Regions from separate parts of the Homo sapiens genome. Here region 1 is linked to region 2. The links come from fine-mapping of genetic effects on plasma protein levels. A gene starts in region 2. The other region holds a variant in brackets. All regions are shown on one strand. Distances are between the middles of the regions. Region 1 overlaps LOC105375431 (a long non-coding RNA gene). Region 2 holds the start of ACHE (acetylcholinesterase (Yt blood group)).

The links. PIP is the chance, under the fine-mapping model, that this variant and not a neighbour inherited with it causes the effect. The UK Biobank Pharma Proteomics Project read protein levels with antibody pairs (Olink). The fine-mapping took linkage between variants from a reference panel, not from the people measured, so its PIPs are less certain.
Region 1: its variant is fine-mapped to the plasma level of the ACHE protein (UK Biobank, PIP above 0.99).

What each region holds. Positions count from the first base shown.
Region 1 is chr7:100,932,452-100,942,347 of GRCh38, reverse strand. It overlaps LOC105375431 (a long non-coding RNA gene), which reads left to right. Exons shown (of 3, transcript XR_007060457.1): 3 at 12-289. Among named protein-coding and RNA genes, the nearest start is that of MUC3A, 12 kb to the left of the region's middle. RefSeq lists an enhancer at 8,436-8,937. The variant AT/T (reference allele first, on the strand shown) is at 4,833.
Region 2 is chr7:100,891,732-100,901,592 of GRCh38, reverse strand. ACHE (acetylcholinesterase (Yt blood group)) reads left to right here and starts at 5,705. Exons shown (of 5, transcript NM_000665.5): 1 at 5,705-5,791; 2 at 7,341-8,428; 3 at 8,775-9,259. The coding sequence starts at 7,361. RefSeq lists silencers at 4,352-4,431, 5,654-5,803, 5,864-5,913 and enhancers at 5,268-5,888, 8,160-8,898, 8,899-9,638.

The DNA of each region.
Region 1 (9,896 bases), 41 kb before region 2:
CTTCTTCCTAGAGTCTGGTGCATCTGAAAGTTCTGTGAACACTAGCCTGCCACATTCAGTGGATCTGGAGGCAACTATCGCCCTCCTATAAATACCAAGGGTGCCACTGGCCTGCTCCTTACACCAGACAGTAAACAGTCACCAAGAGCCTGATTGAAGCTTTGGGACAAAACAATGAAACCAAAAGATGGATTTGCTGAGTAGCGGAGACCGTAAACTGCTACTCTCAGTTTATTTATTTATTTATTTTTAATTTTTTTTTTTTTTTGAGATGGAGTCTCACTCTGCCGCCCAGGCTGGAGTGCAGTGGTGTAATCTCAGCTCACTGCAGCCTCCGCTTCCCAGGTTCCATCAATTCTCCTGCCTCAGCCTCCCGAGTAGCTGAGATTACAGGCCCATGCCACCACGACCTGCTAATTTTTGTATTTTAAACCATGTTGGCCTGGCTGGTCTTGAACTCCTGACCTCAGGTGACCCAACTGCCTCAGCCTCCCAAAGTGCTGGGATTACAGGAGTGAGCCACTGCACCCAGCCGTCTCTGTGTTTTAAAAAATAAAATAATAATAAATACATTATTTTTAGGCCAGGTGCAGTGACTCATGCCTGTAATCCCAGCACTTTAGGAGGCCAAGGTGAGTGGATCACTTGAAGTCAGGAGTTCAAGACCAGCCTGGCCAACATGGCGAAACGCGGTCTCTACTAAAAATACAAAAAAAAAATTAGCTAGGTGTAGTGGCTCACACCTGTAATCCCAGCTACTTGGGAGGCTGAGGCAGAAGAATTGCTTGAACCCAGGAGGCAGAGGTTGCAGTGAGCTGAGATTGTGCCATTGCACTTCAGCCTGGGAAACGGAGGAAGACTCTATCTCAAAAAATAAATAAATAAAATAAAAAATAAATATATTATTGTTAAAACTGGTTTTCCACCATTGGTGATCTTAAAGTGTGTGCTTAAAACTTTTATTTTAATGATATTATTCTTGAATTGCAAGCCCAGATATCTATAGCATGATTGGTCTTAGTGAATTTATTGAGGTGTACGTTTTATTTAAAAGTATGTGGTGGCTCACGCCTGTCATCCCAGCACTTTGGGAAGCTGAAGAGGGTGGATCACAAGGTCAGGAGATCAAGAACATCCTGGCTAACGTGGTGAAACCCCATCTCTACTAAAAATACAAAAAATTAGCCAGACGTGATGGCAGGCGCCTGTAGTCCCAGCTACTCAGGAGGCTGAGGCAGGAGAATGGCATGAGCCCGGGAGGCAGAGCTGGCAGTGAGCCGAGATTGCACCACTGCACTCTAGCCTGGGTGACAGAGCAAGACTCCATCTCAAAAAAAGAAAATGAATAAAAAGACAAGAAAATGTGGCACATATATACCATGGAATACTATGCAGCCATAAAAAAGGATGAGTTCATGTCCTTTGCAGGGACATGGATGAAGCTGGAAACCATCATTCTTAGCAAACTATCGCAAGGACAGAAAGCCAAACACTGCATGTTCCCACTCATAGGTGGGAATTGAACAATGAGAACACTTGGTCACAGGGCAGGAACATCGCACACTGGACTTTGTTGGGGGCTGGCGGGCTGGGGGAGGGATGGCATTAGGAGAAATACCTAATGTAAATGACGAGTTGATGGGTGCAGCAAACCAGCATGGCACATGTATACCTATGTAACAAACCTTCATGTTGTGCACATGTATCCTAGAATTTAAAGTATAATAAAAAAAATCATACCACGGTCTTTCCTATAGAAAGATCTAAGCTTGCTAATATGACTGAATTGCTTTACTATTGAATTCCAGCAAACACTTAAGGAAGAAATCATACCAACTGTACACAAACTCTTTCAGAAAATGGAACACTTCCCAACTTTGTTTATGAGCCCAGCATTATTCTGATACCAAACCAAGACAAATACATTACAAGAAAACTAGACCGATAGCCCTAATGAATATAGACACAAAAATCCTCAAGGAAATATTATGAAATAAAACATAGCAATACATAAAAATAATGCATCATGACCAAGTGGGGTTAATCCCAGGGATACAAAGCTGGTTAAACATTTGAAAATGAATCAATGTAATTTCTTATGTCAACAGTCTAAAGATGAGAAACCACATGATCATTTCCATAGATGCAGGAAAAGCATTTGACAAAATCTGACGTCCATTACTGATAAAAGCTCTCCGAAAACTAGTAAATAGAAGGAACTTCCTCAACCTATTAAAGGACAGCTACAAAAAAGAAAAAAAAAATCAGCAAAGTATCTTAGTCTGTTCAGGCTGCTGCAACAAAATACTGTAAACTGGGTAGTTTATAAACAACAGACATTTATTCTCATAGTTCTAGAGGCTGGGAAGTCCAAGATCAAGGCAGATTTTGTGTCTAGTGAGATCCTGCTTTCTGGCTTATAGACAGTTCCTTCTTTCTGTGTCTTCACATGGTAGAAGGGCAAGGGTCTTTCTAGGTCTCCTTTTTTTTTTTTTTTTTTTTTTTTTCCTGAGACAGAGTCTCACTGTGTCACCCAGGCAGGCTTGGGGCTCACTGCGACCTCTTCCTCCCAGGATCAATGATTCTCCTGCCTCAGCCTCCCAAGTAGCTGGGACTACAGTCATGTGCCACCATGCCCTGCTAGTTTTTGTACTTTTAGTAGAGATGTATTTCACCATGTTGGCCAGGCTGGTCTCGAACTCCTGACCTCAAGTGATCCACCTACCTCAGCCTCCCGAAGTGCTGGGATTATGGGTATGACCTTATCTGGCCTCTGGGTCTCTTTCATAAGGGCACTAATCCCATTCATGAGGGCTCCACCACCATGGCCTAATCACCTCCTGATATGGTTTGGGTCTGTGTCCCCACCCAAATCTCATGTTAAAATGTAATCCCCAGTGCTGGAGGTGGGGCCTGGTGAGAGGTGATTGGATCATGGAGGTGAATCCTTCATAAATGGTTTAACACCATCCCCTTGGTGCTATTCTTGTGGTAGAGTTTTCATGAGCTCTGGTTGTTTAAAAGTGTGTGGCACCTCCCCACTCTCTCTCTTCCTCCTGCTCTGGCTGTGTGAAGACACCTGCTCAGGCTTTGCCTTCTGCCATGAGTAAAAGCTCCCTGAGGCCTCCCCAGCCATGCTTCCTGCATGGCCTGCAGAACCCTAAGCCAATTAAACATATATATGACCCAGTCTCAGTTCCTTCTTTTTTTTTTTTTTTTTTTTTGAGACAGAGTCTTGCTCTGTCATCCAGGCTGGAGTGCAGTGGTGCGATCTTGGCTCACTGCAACCTCCACCTCCCGGGTTCAAGTGATTCTCCTGCCTCAGCCTCCCGAGTAGCTGGGATTACAGGTGTGTGTCACCACTGCCAGCTAATTTTTGCATTTTTTAGTAGAGAGGGGTTTCACCATGTTTGCCAGGCTGGTCTCGAACTTCTGGCCTCAAGTGATTCACCCACCTCGGACTCCCGAAGTGTCAGTTATTTCTTTATAACAATGTGAGAACAGACTAAAACACCTCCTAAAGGCCCCACCTCCTGATATCATCACCTTGGGGGTTAAGATGGCAACATATATGGATTTCGGGGAGCCACAAACATTCAGACCATGGCACTAAGTACATCTATAAAGCTAAGGTCATTAATAGGTTTTTTTTATATGTTTATTTGTTTATTTTGAAACGGAGTCTCGCTCTGTCACCAGCCTGCAGTGCAGTGGCACAATCTCACCTCACTGCAACCTCTGCCTCCCAGATTCAAGTGATTCTCCTTCCTCAGCCTCCCAAGTAGCTGGGATTACAGGTACATGCCACCACACCCAGCTAATTTTGGTATTTTTAGTAGAGATGGGGTTTCACCATGTTGTCCAGGATGGTCTCGATCTCCTGACCTGGTGATCTGCCCACCTCGGCCTCCAAAAGTGCTGGGATTACAGGTGTGAGCCACCATACCCGGCCAATCATTAATAGGTTTTGGAGGGCGATTCTTTGTTATGTCAAGACGAATCTTTCAGCTGGGCACAGTGGCTCACACTTGTAATCCTAACACTTTGGGAGACGGGAGGATCACTTGAGCCCAGGAGTTCAAGACCAGCCTGGGCAACATAGTGAGACACTGTTTTAAAAAAAAAAAATCACTGTGATTAAATGCAGCAGTGCAGAATTGCTTTTGGTTTACTATTTTGACAAGAGCCATCCACTGGTCTCATCCTAACATTTCTTATTCTATAGGTTAGGAAGTCAGTGTGGGAATTCTGCAGGGTGGTGAGGATATTAATCTCAATTTTACACTTAGATATTAGGAAAGTGACCATAGGAAGTTTGTGGGCACAGGGGCCTATAGTGAGGCAAAGTCAGGGTATAACTACATTTATCAGGGCTTTTGTTAAAAAGTCAAGAAAGGTCGGGCATGGTGGCTGACACCCATAATCCCAGCACTTTGGGAGGCTGACGCTGGCAGATCACTCGAGGTCAGGAGTTTGAGACCAGCCTGGCCCCCGTCTCTACTAAAAACACAAAAAAATTAGTCGGGCATGGTGGCACACACCTGTAATCCTGGCTACCCGGAAGGCTGAGTCAGGAGAATCACTTGAACCCGGGAAGCAGAGGTTGCAGTGAGCTGAGATGGCCCCACTGCACTCCAGCCTGGGCGACAGAGTGCGACTCCACCTCAAAAAAAAAAAAAAAAAAAAAAGTCAAAAAAAAAGACCAGGTATAGTGGCTCATGCCTGAAATCTCAGCACTTTGGGAGGCAGAGGCTAGAGGATCCCTTGAGGTCAGAAGTTGGAGACCGGCCTGGGCAACATAGTGAGACCTCATCTCTACCAAAAAAAAAAAA[AT/T]TTTAAATTATCTGTGTGTGTTGGTGTAGTGTGTGCCTATAGTCACAGCTACTAAGGAAGCTGAGGCAGGAGGATTGCTTGAGCCCAGGAGTCTGAGACTGCAGTGAGCCATGATCATGCCACTCCACTCCAGCCTGGGTGGCAGAGCAAGACTTTCCTCATATATTTAAAAAAAAAAAAACAGATGGCAGCAAGGCTGTGGAGAAAAGGGAACACTCATTCACTGTTGGTCAGAATGTAAATTGTTCAGCCATTACGAAGAGCAGTTCGGATATTTCTCAAAGAACTATGAGTCGAAGTACCAACCAACCCAGCAACCCCACTACTGGGTAACTATCCCCCCAAAAAATAAATTGTTCTACCAAAAGGACACCTGCACCCATGGCACAACAGTATTCACAATAGAAAAGACATGGAATCAACCTAGATGCCCATCTATGGTGAAAAATACAGTATACATACACCATGGATTACTACACAGCCATAAAAAAGAACAAAATCATGTCCATTGCAGCAACGGGGATACAGCTGGAAACCACTAGTCTGAGCTAACTAACGCAGAAACAAAAAACCAAATAACGCTTATTCTCACTTATAAGTGGGAGCTAAATATTGGGTGCACATGGACATAAAAATAAAAACAATAGACACAGGGACTATTAGAGGTAGAAGAGAAGGAGCAGGGCAAGGGCTGAAAAAATGATCTACTGGATACTATGCTCACTACCTTGGTGACATATTCATTCATACCCCAAAACTCAGCATCACATCATATACCTTTGTAACAAACCTGCACTTGCATCCCCTTTTTCTAAAATATTAATAGAAGTTGGCTGGCCAGGCGTGGTGGCTCACGCCTGTAATCCCAGCACTTTGGGAGGCCGAGGCGGGCGGAGGTCAGGAGTTCGAGACCAGCCTGGCCACTGTGGTGAAACCCTGTCTCTGCTAAAAATACAAAAATTAGCCTGGTGTGGTGGCAGGCGCCTGTAATCCCAGCTGCTCGGGAGGCTGAGGCAGGAGAATCACTTGAACCCGGGAGGTGGAGGTTGCAGTAAGCCCGGATCGTGCCACTGCACTTTAGCCTGGGTGACAGAGTGAGACCCTGTCTTGAAAGAAAGAAAAAAAGAGAGAAAGAGAGAAAGAGAGAGAGAAAGAAAGAGAGAAAGAACAGAAAAAAAGAAAGAAAGAAAGAAAGAAGAAAGAGAAAAAGAAAATTAGTTCTTCAGTTGCATTATCCATATTTTAAGAGTACAATGCCACATATGGCTGCTGTCTGCCATATTGGATCATTAGAGATAGAACATTGTCTTCATCGGAACAGGGTCTATGGCCGGAGCTGGGTTATAGCATGTCACACACATTTCTAAACACCTTCTTTGGCTCTCTGGTAAACAACCTCTGAAGTTTACAAGCACCTCTCGGCCTGTTACAGTAACAGCCTACAAACAAATTAAAAATTGTGAAGCCCAGGTTGTCCAGACCAGCAGTCCCCAAACTTTTTGGCACCAAGGACTGGTTTCATGGAAGACAATTGTTCCATGGACCAGGAGGGTCGAGGGGGACGGGTTTGGGATGGTTCAAGCACATTACATTCATTGTGCACTTTATTTCTATTATTATTATTATTGTTATTTGAGATGGAGTGTCACTCTGTCACCCAGGCTAGAGTGCAGTGGCACGATCTCGGCTCACTGCAACCTCCATCTCCCGGGTTCAAGAGATTCTCCTGCCTCAACCTCCCAAGTAGCTGGAATTGTAGGTGCCCACCACCACCCCCAGCTAATTTTTGTATTTTTTGTAGAGACAGTGTTTCACCATGTTGGCCAGGGCAGTCTCAAACTCCTGACCTCAGGTGATCTGCCCACCTCCACCTCCCAAAGTGCTGGGATTACAGTCGTGAGCCACCACACCCAGCCTATTTCTATTATTATGTCGTAATATATAATGAAATAATTATGCAACTTACCATAATGTAGAATCAGTGGGAGCCCTGAGTTTGCCTTCCTGTAATTAGATGGTCACAACAGGGGAGTGATGAGAGACAGTGACAGATCATCAGGCATTAGATTTTTCATAAGGAGCACACAACCTAGGTCACTCATGCACAGTTCACAATAGAGTTGGCACTCCTATGAGAATCTAATGCCACAGCTGATCTGACAGGAGGCGGAGCTCAGGCAGTAATAATAGTGTTGAGGAGCCACTGTAAATATAGATGAAGCTTCACTCGCTCACCCATCGTTCACCTCCTGCTCTGAAACCTGGTTTCTAACAGACCACAGACCCGGTCTCCTGAATATTCTTCCATTCTGAGAGAACAAGTAGCTTCTCAATCAGCAACCCAAAGCGATCACTTCACCAATGCTGACAGCCTACACTCAAGGGAAACATGCTAGACACCCCCATAGTTCTCATGTAAAATTCTATTATTGTCAAGTTTTAAACAACCTATTTCTTTTTTTTTCTTTTTTCTGAGATGGAGTTTCGCTATGTCTCCCAAGCCGGCATGCAGTGGCGTGACCTTGGCTCACTGCAACATCCACCTCCTAGGTTCAAGCAATTTCCCTGCCTCAGCCTCCCGAGTAGCTGGGAATACACGCGTGCACCACCATGCCCAGCTAATTTTTATGTTTTCAGTAGAGACAGGGTTTTGCCATGTTGGCCAGGCTGGTCTCAAACTGCTGACCTCAAGTGATCCACCTGCCTCAGCCTCCCAAAGTGCTGGGATTACAGGGGTGTGCCACCACACCTAGCAACCCATTTCTTTGGACTCCAAATTTGCTGATTTAATTTCTAGAAACTGAAAAATCCAGCGTGAGGTCACGGGACTGCATGTGTTTCCATGGGCGTTCTGGTGCAAAAAATAGAATAGTAAAATAAAATAAAATAAACGATCAAACAAGAAAAACCTCAGATTGTGAAAATGCAGAGAGAGAGAGGGGTACAGTATTCTAAACTAAAGCATCATTTGGGAGAAACTTTCTAGATAATGTTGAAGATTGGACAATTCCTAGGTGCCATCCTGTTTGAATCTAATCATCATGAAATTGCCTTTGGAGATTGTCTATAAAAAGAAACCCTGTTTGTTTTGTTTTTGTTTTTGTGAGACAGAGTCTCACTCTGTCACCCAGGCTGGAGTGCAGTGGCTTCATCTTGGCTCACTGCAACCTCAGTCTCCCAGGTTCAAGCCATTCTCCTGCCTCAGCCTCCTGAGTAGCTGGGATCAGAGGCCCATGCCACCATGCCAAGCTAATTTTGTATTTTTAGTAGAGGTGGGGTTTCACCATGTTGGTCAGGCTGGTCTAGAACTCCCGAGGTTTCCCCATGTTGGCCAGGTTAGTCTTATTCTCCTGACCTCAAATGATCCACCCGCCTCAGCCTCCCAAAGTGCTGGGATTACAGGAGTAAGCCCCCCAGCCAGGAAACCCTGTTTTGACAGCAAGGTTAATGGAGTTCTGTGGACTGGCTCCTGATGGGCAGGCCGAATAGCAGCAGGGCTGTGAATACCTCGGCAGTGGCTTTCATGGGTGAGTGGGACCATCTGATGGGCTGGGCAGGGCTCCCTGGATGGGTGGGGTTTCTTGGATGGCTGTGGCTTGCTGGCAGGTGGGGCTTCTTGGGTGGGCAGGGCTTCTTGAGTGGGTGTGGTTTCCTGGATGGGGCGTGGCTTCACGGGTGGGTGCAGTCTTACCACAGGGCCAGACCCCTAGGTAGGGGGAGGTAGAAATCCTCCTAGCCAGGTAGCTGGTACAGAAGCAGATGGTTGGTGGGGAAAGGAGTGGGGAAGGGACAGTTAATCTGGTAACTAAGAGCCTCTGGCCACAGTAACTCCAGAGTTGGACCACAGACACTATATTTGCTGCAAGGAGGGAGGATGGTACCAGAAGACACTGGAGTTGGGAGGACCAACCCCCAGGACCCTAACCCACTGTGCCCAGGTGGGAAACTGGTAACCTGGCCAAGGAGAGTGGTTTGGAGACCCCACTGAAACCGCCTTTGCAAAAATTATGACAGAGGCCGGGTGCAGTGGCTCACACCTGTAATCCCAGCACTTTGGGAGGCCAAGGTAGGTGGAGTGCTTGAGGTCAGGAGTTCGAGACCAGCCTGGCCAACATGGCAAAACCCGTCTCTACTAAAACTTAGCCGGACATGGTGGCAGGTGCCTGTAATCCCAGCTACTCAGGAGGCTGAGACAGGAGAATCACTCGAATCTGGGAGGTAGAGGTTGCAGTGAGCCGAGATCACCCCACTGTACTCCAGCCTGGGTGACAGAGTAGGACTCTGTCTTTAAAAAAAAAGAAAAAAGAAATTATGACAGTGAGTAAGACCCGACACAGGAAAATGATGGCAGTAAAATAATGTAATCTAGCTGACTTCTTCTTGCTTCTAGCCTCTAAACTGTCCTTGTTCATTCCTGGGCATAGGCTAGGTTAACTTGGGGAGGAATTTAATTTATGGTTTAAACTTAAAGCAAGGATGATAATAGCCCTTCCCAAAACTACCACCTGTTTGTTCTGGGACCAAACTGCCTTTGTAAAACTAATGACAACTCACAAGATTAGGATTATGGGGGTGTCTGAACTCTGCTAAAATGAAGCTAAAAGTTCAGCCATTGAGCTGGGTGCGGTGGCTCACGCCTGTAATCCCAGCACTTTCGAAGGCCGCGGGGGGAGGGGGGATGCGGATCATGAGGTCAGGAGTTCGAGACCAGCCTGGCCAACGTGGTGAAACCCCGTCTCTACTAAAAATACAAAAAAATTAGCCGGGTAGATGGTGAGCCTCTACCTCCCAGATTCAAGTGATTCTCCTGCCTCAGCCTCCCAAGTAGCTGGGACTACAGGCATGCACCACCAACCCCGGCTAATTTTTTTGTATTTTAGTAGAGACGGGGTTTCACCACGTTGGCCAGGCTGGTCTCAAACTCCTGACCTCATGATCTGCCTGCCTCGGCCTCCCAAAGTGCTGGGATTACAGGTGTGAATCACCGCACCCGGCCTCTTGAAAGTATTTTTACTAGGTATAGAATTCTAAGTTGACAGTTTTTTTTTTTTTCAGCACATGAA
Region 2 (9,861 bases):
CACCTATAATCCCAGCTACTCGGGAGGCTGAGGCAGGAGAATCACTTGAACCCGGGAGGCAGAGGTTGCAATGAGCCAAGATCATGCCATTGCACTCCAGCCTGGGCAACAAAAGCGAGACTTCGTCTAAAAAAAAAAAAAAAAAAGGCAAAGAAAATACAGCCTACCCCATTTGAATGCTACAAGTGAGAATTAAATGAAATGATATTTAGCAAAGCATTCAGGAAGCGGCTGGCAAACAAGCTCTTCTTCCCCATACATGCTACTGTGAAAGCAACATTGGATCTGGGCTACTCTTCCACTCCACCCTGTTGTCCCCAGTGTTGTGGACATTTAAGGGATCCAGCTGACCACTGGGCCAACCTCACAGCCAGCCTGCACTGTCCCCAAGCCAGGTGGCAGAATCCCAAACCAGTCCTCCTCACTTCTGCACCAATCTTGTGTTAAATACTCAGTGTCCCTGGAAACCCCAGCCAAGGTCATCTATGGAACCTGTGCTTCCGGCACAGCTCTCACTTGGCCACTTGATACCTGCAGGGCAGCCAGGAGTGACCAGGAGCTCTCTGGGTGTCAAACATCTATAGCACCTAGTGTAACCTCACCAGCTATTTCCAAGAAGCCATTCAAGATGCACTGCTAACATTTAAACTGAAAACCGAGTCAGGGTTGGCTGGAACCTGTGAGACCAGGAACTGACAGCCAGTTGGACCAGCATGCCAGGGACCATGTCAGATGGATGTCAGGTCATACCAGGGAAGATGAGTGGCAACATGGCGTTCAATGTACTACTGGTGAATTAAATTGCATATTTCACTCCTTTCAGAAGCACTCAAGTTCATGGGCAAAAAGGAATGCCAAGAAAAGTACTGATCAGTTCTGATGGCCGGGCGCAGTGGCTCACACCTATAATCCCAGCACTTTGGGAGGCAGAGGTGGGAGGATCGCTTGAGCCCAGGAGTTCAAGACCAGCCTGGGCAACATAGCAAGACCCCGTCTCTACAAATTAATAAAATATTTAAAAATTAGCTGGGCATGGTGGTGCCACCTGTGGTCCCAGCTATTCAGAAGGCTGAAGGAGGGTTACTGCTTGAGCCCAGGACTTCAAGGCTGCAATGAGATATGATCACACCATTTCACTCCAACCCCGGGTGACAGAATGAGACCAAAAAAAAAAAAATTCTGAGCACAAGGGTATGCCACCCGCACTCCACTCTACCCCCGGCCAGAAAAGAGGCTAAACTAAGCAAAAGGTTATTTGGCGAATTGCATGGGAAATACTGTATACTCGTTAAATAAATAACAAAATTGTGAAAATAAAGTAAGACTTTGTAGAGACAAGCTATAAAAAATGTGTGAAATGCTCATAACTAGCAAGAGAGAAAAGGGTAAAAAGGATGGATAAGCCGCAAAGAGAAATCATCCTATCCTGTGTAGGATGACGTAACTTGGATCCAGCAGGAAGGCTGGCCCAACATTAAGTAGGGGACATAGGAAGGGGTGGGTAGAGGGAGGAAAGTCCTTTGTGTGGCCTCAGGCTCCCAATTCTGCCAGGTTACAATCTCGATTAATGGGGGGTTGGGCAAAGGCTCATCATTAAAGGAAGAGTTCGGCCGGATATGGTTGCTCAGGCCTGTAATCCCAGCACTTTGGGAGGCTGAGGCAGGTGGATCACTTAAGGCCAGGAGTTTGAGACCAGCCTGGCCAACATGGTGCAATCTCATCTCTACTAAAAATACAAAAAATTAACCAGGCATGGTGGTGCGCACCTGTAATCCCAGCTACTCAGGAGGCTGAGGTGGGAGAATCACTTGAACCTGGGAAGTGGAGGTTGCAGTGAGCCGAGTGCCACTGCACTCCAGCCTGGGGCGACAGAGTGAGACTCTGTCAAATAAATAAATAAATAGGAGATACTGTTCTTCAGCCCCTCCTCCTTCCTGCTGGCTGGAATGTAGATGTGATGGCTGATGTTCCAGCAGCCATTCTATGCCATGCGGTAGAAGTCACATGCTGAAGATGGTGCAGTAACAAGATACTGTGCAAGGAGCAACAGGGTTCCGTGTAAAGAAGCCTGGACCCTGACATTGAGGGCACCATGCCAACCCTGCAAGACTCATTTCTAGGTCTCTTTTTTTTTTTTTTTAAGACAGAGTCTCCCTCTGTCACCCAAGCTGGAGTGCAGTGGCGAGATCTTGGCCCACTGCAATCTCCGCCTCCCAGGTTCAAGCAATTCTTGTGCCTCAGCCTCCCAAGTAGCTAGGAGTACACGCACGCACCACCATACCAAGCTAATTTTTGTATTTTTAGTACAGACAAGGTTTTACCATGTTGCCCAGGCTGGTCTCAAACTCCTGGCCTCAAGTGATCCTCCTGCCTCAGCCTCCCAAGTAGCTAGAACTATAAGTATGCACCACCACACCCAGCTAATTATTTTTATTTTTTGTAGAGACAGGGTCTCACCACATTGGCCATGCTGGCCTCATACTCCTGGCCTCAAGTGATCCTCTCTCCTTGTCCTCCCAAAGTTCTGGGACGACAGTCACTGCACCTGGCCCAAGAAATACATTTCTATTATTTTTTTTTTTTTTTGAGACAGAGTTTCGCTCTTGTTGCCCAGGCTGGAGTACAATGGCATGATTTCCGCTCACTGCACCCTCCACCTCCTGGGTTCAAGCGATTCTCCTGCCTCAGCCTCCTGAGTAGCTGGGATTACAAGCATGGGCCACCATGCCCAGCTAATTTTTTTGTATTTTTAGTAGAGACAGGGTTTCTCCATGTTGGTCAGGCTGGTCTTGAACTCCCAACCTCAGGTGATCTGCCTGCCTCAGCCTCCCAAAATACTGGGATTACAACAGGCATGAGCCACCATGCCCGGCCTCTATTATATCTTGTTAAAGCCATTATTTGGTTTTTGGTCTCATACAGCTGAATTGAATATTAACCAATAAATAGAGGAAATAAGAATCTTTTGTGTTAGAAGATGTGGATCAAGGTCTGTAATAGAAGTGGGGTTCCCTGCCAGGCATGGCAGCTCATGCCTGTAATCCCAACACTTTGGGAGGCTGAGGCAGGAGGATCACCTGAGGTCAGGAGTTCGAGACCAGCCTGGCCAACATGGTGAAACCCCACCTCTGCTAAATATACAAAAATTAGCCAGGTGTGGTGGCAGGCGCCTCTAGTCCCAGCTACTCAGGAGGCTGGGAAAGGAGAATCCTTGAGCCCAGGAGGCAGAGGTTGCAGCGAGCTGAGATGGCATCATCTCTACACTCTAGCCTGGGCGACAGAGCGAGACTCTGTCTAAAAAAAAAAAATGGCGCTTCCTTCCAAGGTGGGAGACAGAGATAAAAGAGGGGTAGGGAAATTCTCTGAATTGGCAGAACTGGTAGTAGAAGCAAGGCTCATTCCTGGATAAACAGAAATGGTGAGAGAAGAAATGGGAAAAATCAAGGACATCCCTGCAGTGACAGCTGTGGAGGGTGGGGAGTTTACTATGCTAGACTATGTAGGGAAACGCCTCCTGGCTTGACAGGTTAGGTGCCTGTGTTGACAACGGTTGCTGAGAGCTCAAGGTGAAAAGAGGGATAGTTCCAGGAAATGATAACCCTGGTGATAAACTATCCCTGCCCTCCCTATCTTCATTGTACAGGCCTAGAAACTCGTGACGACAGAGGTTAGGTGACACCTGCGTGGCACAGTTCGTCTGGAGGGTGACAGGGGCAAGCCTTCATCACTAGCAGGGCCAAAAATCCCTAAAGCCTCAGGACTGGGGCAGGCCTCAGAGCACTCGTTCACAGTTTGTTTCCATCATTTTATTTTTTTGCGGAGAAGGGAGTCTCGCTATGTTGCCCAGGCTAGTCTCCAACTCCTGGACTGAAGCGATCCTCCTGTCTCGGCCTCCCAGAGTGCTGGGATTACAGGCACCGCACTAGGGGCCACACGCGGCCCCATCATTTTAATAATTCATAATTACCACGCTTAGAAACCTGCCTCAGATTCATTCCCCCCGCAGCAACACCCACCATCCACCCTCCTGTCCCCTCCCCCATGCACAGCCCTTACATCTGCTCTTCAGGGATCTCAACTAGGGCACATGGTCTGGCCAGTGAGGAGCCTTCAACTAGTGCGGCCAGAACGCTGAAGGCCGGATACAAGGAGCCTCGGTGTCCAGGCAGGGGATTTGGGGTTGCCTGAGATTGGGGCGGGGAAAGCCGGAGACAGTGGGCACAGATGGCGAGGGGTTCACCTCCCCAACACCCCCAACCCAGCCCAGTCTCCGAGGCCCGAGTGGCTGCTTTTTGCGCCACCTGGCGGCCGTCTCCAGCGAGCGGAGCGCGGGTGACCGTGCCTGCGGGACCCGGTTCCCGTGGGGCGAGCGGGCGTGGGGCCCGCCCAGCTTGGAGAGCCGGGAACCGCGCGGCCCAGGGACTGGCAAGACTCCGGATTCAACCCCTGCGAGGCCCCGCAACCCGGTGCCCGCGGTCCCTGGCGGCGGCGCCCGCGTGCCCGAGGCGCTGCGGGGCGCTGCGGGGCGCGCGGCGGTTAGAGCGAGCGTGTGCGCACGCGCCCACCCCACGCCGCGCCCCGCACCGCCGCGCGCGCGCACGCACGCCCGACGCTGGCCTGCGCCGGCCGCTCTCCCACGCGGGGTCTCGGGGGCTCCTGAGCCGGCCGCCTCCAGGAAGCAGGCGCCGCGCGGTATTGCCGCATGCACCTCGGTCGTGGGGACCCCGCTGCAGCAGCCCTGTCCACACGGGTGAACTCCTGGAGGGCGGGGCGGGGGGCAATCTGCGCGGGTCAGGCCCCTCGGAGCAGGCTGGGGGCGCCCGAGCCAGGCCGCTCCCACCTGCCAGCCGCGTGGCCAATGAATGCTAGGCCTGGTGATGTCATGCCCCGACCGGACCCTGGTGACGAAAGTCCGAAGTCACCCGTCAGGGAACCAGCACAGACCCACCCGCGGGGGTTCCAGAAGTTTCCACTGCCGCCGCGGAGTGCGGCCTCGCCCAGCAGCCTTGCGCGTGCTACCACGCTGTCCTGCCTTCTCAGGTGTCCCAAGTCACCCCTTCCTCCCCCAGGGGTCTCCTGTCTCCATGCCCTCCCACCTCATTTCCACTAGCGATCCCATTTTACATCTCCATTCCCACAGGTGTCCTTTCATCCCCAGGAGTGTCCCACGTCACCTTTTCTGCACCCGTGCCACCTGGACCCCTAAGGGGACGGTACTCTGCCACACTCCCACATGCCTCTCCTCCCATGCCACCCGTCTGTGTCGTGGCCGGGGATGCATGACCCCTTGGCCTTGCGCTAACTTCACCAGCCTCGAGCGAGACCGACAGGGTGTCCAAGTGTGTCCGTCCGTCTGTGAAAGTCGTCCCTGCGTTTGTCTGTGCCTGTCACTGCATGAGGTCGTCCGTCTGCGCGTGTCTGTCTCCACGGGCTTCTGTCCGTCTGTCTGTCACGTGGGTGTCTACTCCGCCGCTGCAGGTCTTTGGGTCGCGTCTGTCACTGCGCTCTGTCGTCGGTCGGCGTCTGGCACTGGAGTGCGTCTGGGCCCCGGGGTCTCCGGGTCTCGGCTCCAAGGGAGGGAGAGAGAGGGGAGGTGGCCACCCGGGAGAGCGGGGAGGGGCGGGGGCGGAGACAGTGGGCGGGGGCGGGCGGGGGCGCTGTGAGGCCCGGAGGGGGTGTGTGCGGGGGGCCGGAGGCGGCGGCTGTCAGAGTCGGCTCAGCCTGCGCCGGGGAACATCGGCCGCCTCCAGCTCCCGGCGCGGCCCGGCCCGGCCCGGCTCGGCCGCCTCAGGTGAGTCTCCCTCCCCGCCCGGGACTCTCCTTAAGGCCCGGGTCCGGGGCACCGTGCGCTCCCCGAGGGGTCCAGGCCCCCCTAACGGGACGGCTCCCGCTTCCCCGGGCCTGCCCCGCGCCGCCCTCCGCTGCCCCGCACTCGTCCGGAACTCTTCCCCGGCCGCCTCACACTCACCGACGCCCACGCAGGAGCCCGAGCCCGCGGGAACGGCCGCCGCCTCTGCGCTCCGATTCCCGCGGGGACCCCCGAGCACCCCTTCCCCGATCGCTCCCTAGTCCGGGGCCACTGGAAGACACCCCCTAATTGGGGCGGTACCCGAGCTGCGCAGGTTCCCGGCGCCGGGCTGGGCACCCCCATCCCCAGGGCCACAAGCCAGCGCCCCTGCGCAGCGCCCCGCAGAGGCCCCCTCCGAGGCCCAGGACGCCCCCTCCCGCGGAGACTCCATCTCTATTTTTTGGGAAGGGGAGGCTCGGCGGAAGCCCCGAGTTATAATTAGCGCCACTCGGGTTTCCTAGTTAATCTCCAGCAGCACCACCACCCCCCGCTCAGGGCGGCGGGGGCTGGGCTAGGAGTGACCGGCGGGAGAGGGGGGAGTTCCCACCCGGGGAATTTTGATCCTTTGGCTGGAGATGCCGGAACCGTAGCAGCTGCTGCCCCCAAAATAGCGCCCCCGCCCCTGCAGCCGGGGATCTCCGGAGTCCCGGGAACGCAGGCGTCCCGGCTCGCCCTTCAGGCGGCTCTGCAAGGCCCTCGAGCCCCCAGGCCCCCTCCCCAAGTTCCCGGCTCCTGGCTCGGGGCGGGGAGCGCCGACCTTTTCTCGGTCTCTACTGCCCTCCGCCGGCGGCGGCGTGCACGGCAGCTTCAGACGGATGGGGGGCTCTCGAGTCCTGGGGGACGCGGGCTGGCGAGCCTGTTTGCTGGGGCTGGGCTGGGAGCGTGCGCAGCTGATGGGAACCCGCGGGCATCAGCGCTCGGTGCCAGACATTGGATGAGAAGGGGCAGGGTTGGGTGGGGAGTGGACTAGGCAGGATTTGGGGGACCCCGGGACCTGAGGCTTCCACACCCTGAATGCCCAGCCCACCGCCCCCCAGGGCCCCGGGTCTGGCCGACCCAGGAGAGCGGGGCTGCGCTTCAGGCCGCCGCAAGCTCCCCCAGCGGCGCTGCCCGTCCGTGAGGCCGCGCCCTGTCGGGTGGCCTGTTCGTGGACTGAGGCTTCTGGTGCCCTCACTGCACGAGCTGGGCCCGGCCCAGTTCCGGGAAGAGGTGAGGGCAGTGGACCCCTGCGGAGCAGAGAGGGTGCTCCTCTCTGTTCCCTGCATTTGTCTGGATATGGGTGTCTGCCTGATCTCTTTCCCCTCCTGCCCGCTGGCCTGTGTCCTTGTCTCTGCCTGTCTCCTTCCCTCCCTCCCTCTCTCCCCTCATCTTTGCCAACCTGCCCCACCTCCTCTGCAGCTGAGCGATAACCCTTGGGCCGACAGTGCCCTAATCTCCTCCCTCCTGGCTTCTCGACCGACCCTTCACCCTTTCCCTTTCTTTCTCCCAGCAGACGCCGCCTGCCCTGCAGCCATGAGGCCCCCGCAGTGTCTGCTGCACACGCCTTCCCTGGCTTCCCCACTCCTTCTCCTCCTCCTCTGGCTCCTGGGTGGAGGAGTGGGGGCTGAGGGCCGGGAGGATGCAGAGCTGCTGGTGACGGTGCGTGGGGGCCGGCTGCGGGGCATTCGCCTGAAGACCCCCGGGGGCCCTGTCTCTGCTTTCCTGGGCATCCCCTTTGCGGAGCCACCCATGGGACCCCGTCGCTTTCTGCCACCGGAGCCCAAGCAGCCTTGGTCAGGGGTGGTAGACGCTACAACCTTCCAGAGTGTCTGCTACCAATATGTGGACACCCTATACCCAGGTTTTGAGGGCACCGAGATGTGGAACCCCAACCGTGAGCTGAGCGAGGACTGCCTGTACCTCAACGTGTGGACACCATACCCCCGGCCTACATCCCCCACCCCTGTCCTCGTCTGGATCTATGGGGGTGGCTTCTACAGTGGGGCCTCCTCCTTGGACGTGTACGATGGCCGCTTCTTGGTACAGGCCGAGAGGACTGTGCTGGTGTCCATGAACTACCGGGTGGGAGCCTTTGGCTTCCTGGCCCTGCCGGGGAGCCGAGAGGCCCCGGGCAATGTGGGTCTCCTGGATCAGAGGCTGGCCCTGCAGTGGGTGCAGGAGAACGTGGCAGCCTTCGGGGGTGACCCGACATCAGTGACGCTGTTTGGGGAGAGCGCGGGAGCCGCCTCGGTGGGCATGCACCTGCTGTCCCCGCCCAGCCGGGGCCTGTTCCACAGGGCCGTGCTGCAGAGCGGTGCCCCCAATGGACCCTGGGCCACGGTGGGCATGGGAGAGGCCCGTCGCAGGGCCACGCAGCTGGCCCACCTTGTGGGCTGTCCTCCAGGCGGCACTGGTGGGAATGACACAGAGCTGGTAGCCTGCCTTCGGACACGACCAGCGCAGGTCCTGGTGAACCACGAATGGCACGTGCTGCCTCAAGAAAGCGTCTTCCGGTTCTCCTTCGTGCCTGTGGTAGATGGAGACTTCCTCAGTGACACCCCAGAGGCCCTCATCAACGCGGGAGACTTCCACGGCCTGCAGGTAACTAGTGGCTAGCTGGCGTGAAGCTGGCTCCTCTGGGTCCCAACGGTCCCTCCCCTCCCTGCAGGGACCCAGGCATGAGGGCTTCTCCAGGCCCATTCCCAGAAGTCCCAGAAGTCCTCCCTGAGGGCTCAGATCCCAGGGTGGTCAGCAGGGCAGACAGGAAAGCCACCATGGGTCTATTTTCTCTTTCTCTGCATCCCTCCCCTGATCTCGTCCTCTCTCTGTCCATGGTTCCGGGTCTGTAACTGTTCATCTCTCTGGCTCTTTGTCTGTCCATCTGTTTCTGTCTACTTGTCTGTCTGTGCCTGTCGCTCCATCCCACCCCCCTCTCCCTCACCCCCAGGTGCTGGTGGGTGTGGTGAAGGATGAGGGCTCGTATTTTCTGGTTTACGGGGCCCCAGGCTTCAGCAAAGACAACGAGTCTCTCATCAGCCGGGCCGAGTTCCTGGCCGGGGTGCGGGTCGGGGTTCCCCAGGTAAGTGACCTGGCAGCCGAGGCTGTGGTCCTGCATTACACAGACTGGCTGCATCCCGAGGACCCGGCACGCCTGAGGGAGGCCCTGAGCGATGTGGTGGGCGACCACAATGTCGTGTGCCCCGTGGCCCAGCTGGCTGGGCGACTGGCTGCCCAGGGTGCCCGGGTCTACGCCTACGTCTTTGAACACCGTGCTTCCACGCTCTCCTGGCCCCTGTGGATGGGGGTGCCCCACGGCTACGAGATCGAGTTCATCTTTGGGATCCCCCTGGACCCCTCTCGAAACTACACGGCAGAGGAGAAAATCTTCGCCCAGCGACTGATGCGATACTGGGCCAACTTTGCCCGCACAGGGTCAGCAGTGCAGAGGGAGAGAAGGCTGGGGAGGACAGGAGTCGGGGGCGGGAGGACACACAAAGGCAGACACACGGAGACAGAAAGGACGGGTGGGACAGGGGCAGGATAGAACAGCCAGAGAGGGATATGCTCACAAAGTAGATAAAAGGGGAGAGAAAAAGAAAGGAGACAGAGAAGGCAGAGGGGGTCTTGCAGAGACAGAGGCAAAGGAAAGTGAGGAGGAGACGAGGTAGACATGGAGGGGGCGGGGCACAGTGGCTCACCCCTGTAATTCCAGCCCTTTGGGAGGCCAAGGTGGGAGGATCCCCTGAGGCCAGGAGTTTGAGACCAGACTGGACAACATAACAAGACCCCGACTCTTAAAAAGAAAAAAAATACAAAACTTAGCCAGGCACGGTGGCTCGTGCCTCTAGTCCCAGCTACTTGGGAAGGTGAGGCAGGAGGATTGCTTGAGCCTGGGAGGTTGAGGCTGCAGTGAGCTATGATGGCACCACTGCACTCCAGCCTGAGTGGCCCTATCTCTGGAAAAAAAAAAAAAAAAAAAAAAGGGAGACCAAGACAAAGGAGTTGGAGCTGGATTAAGTCAAACCAGTGATGAT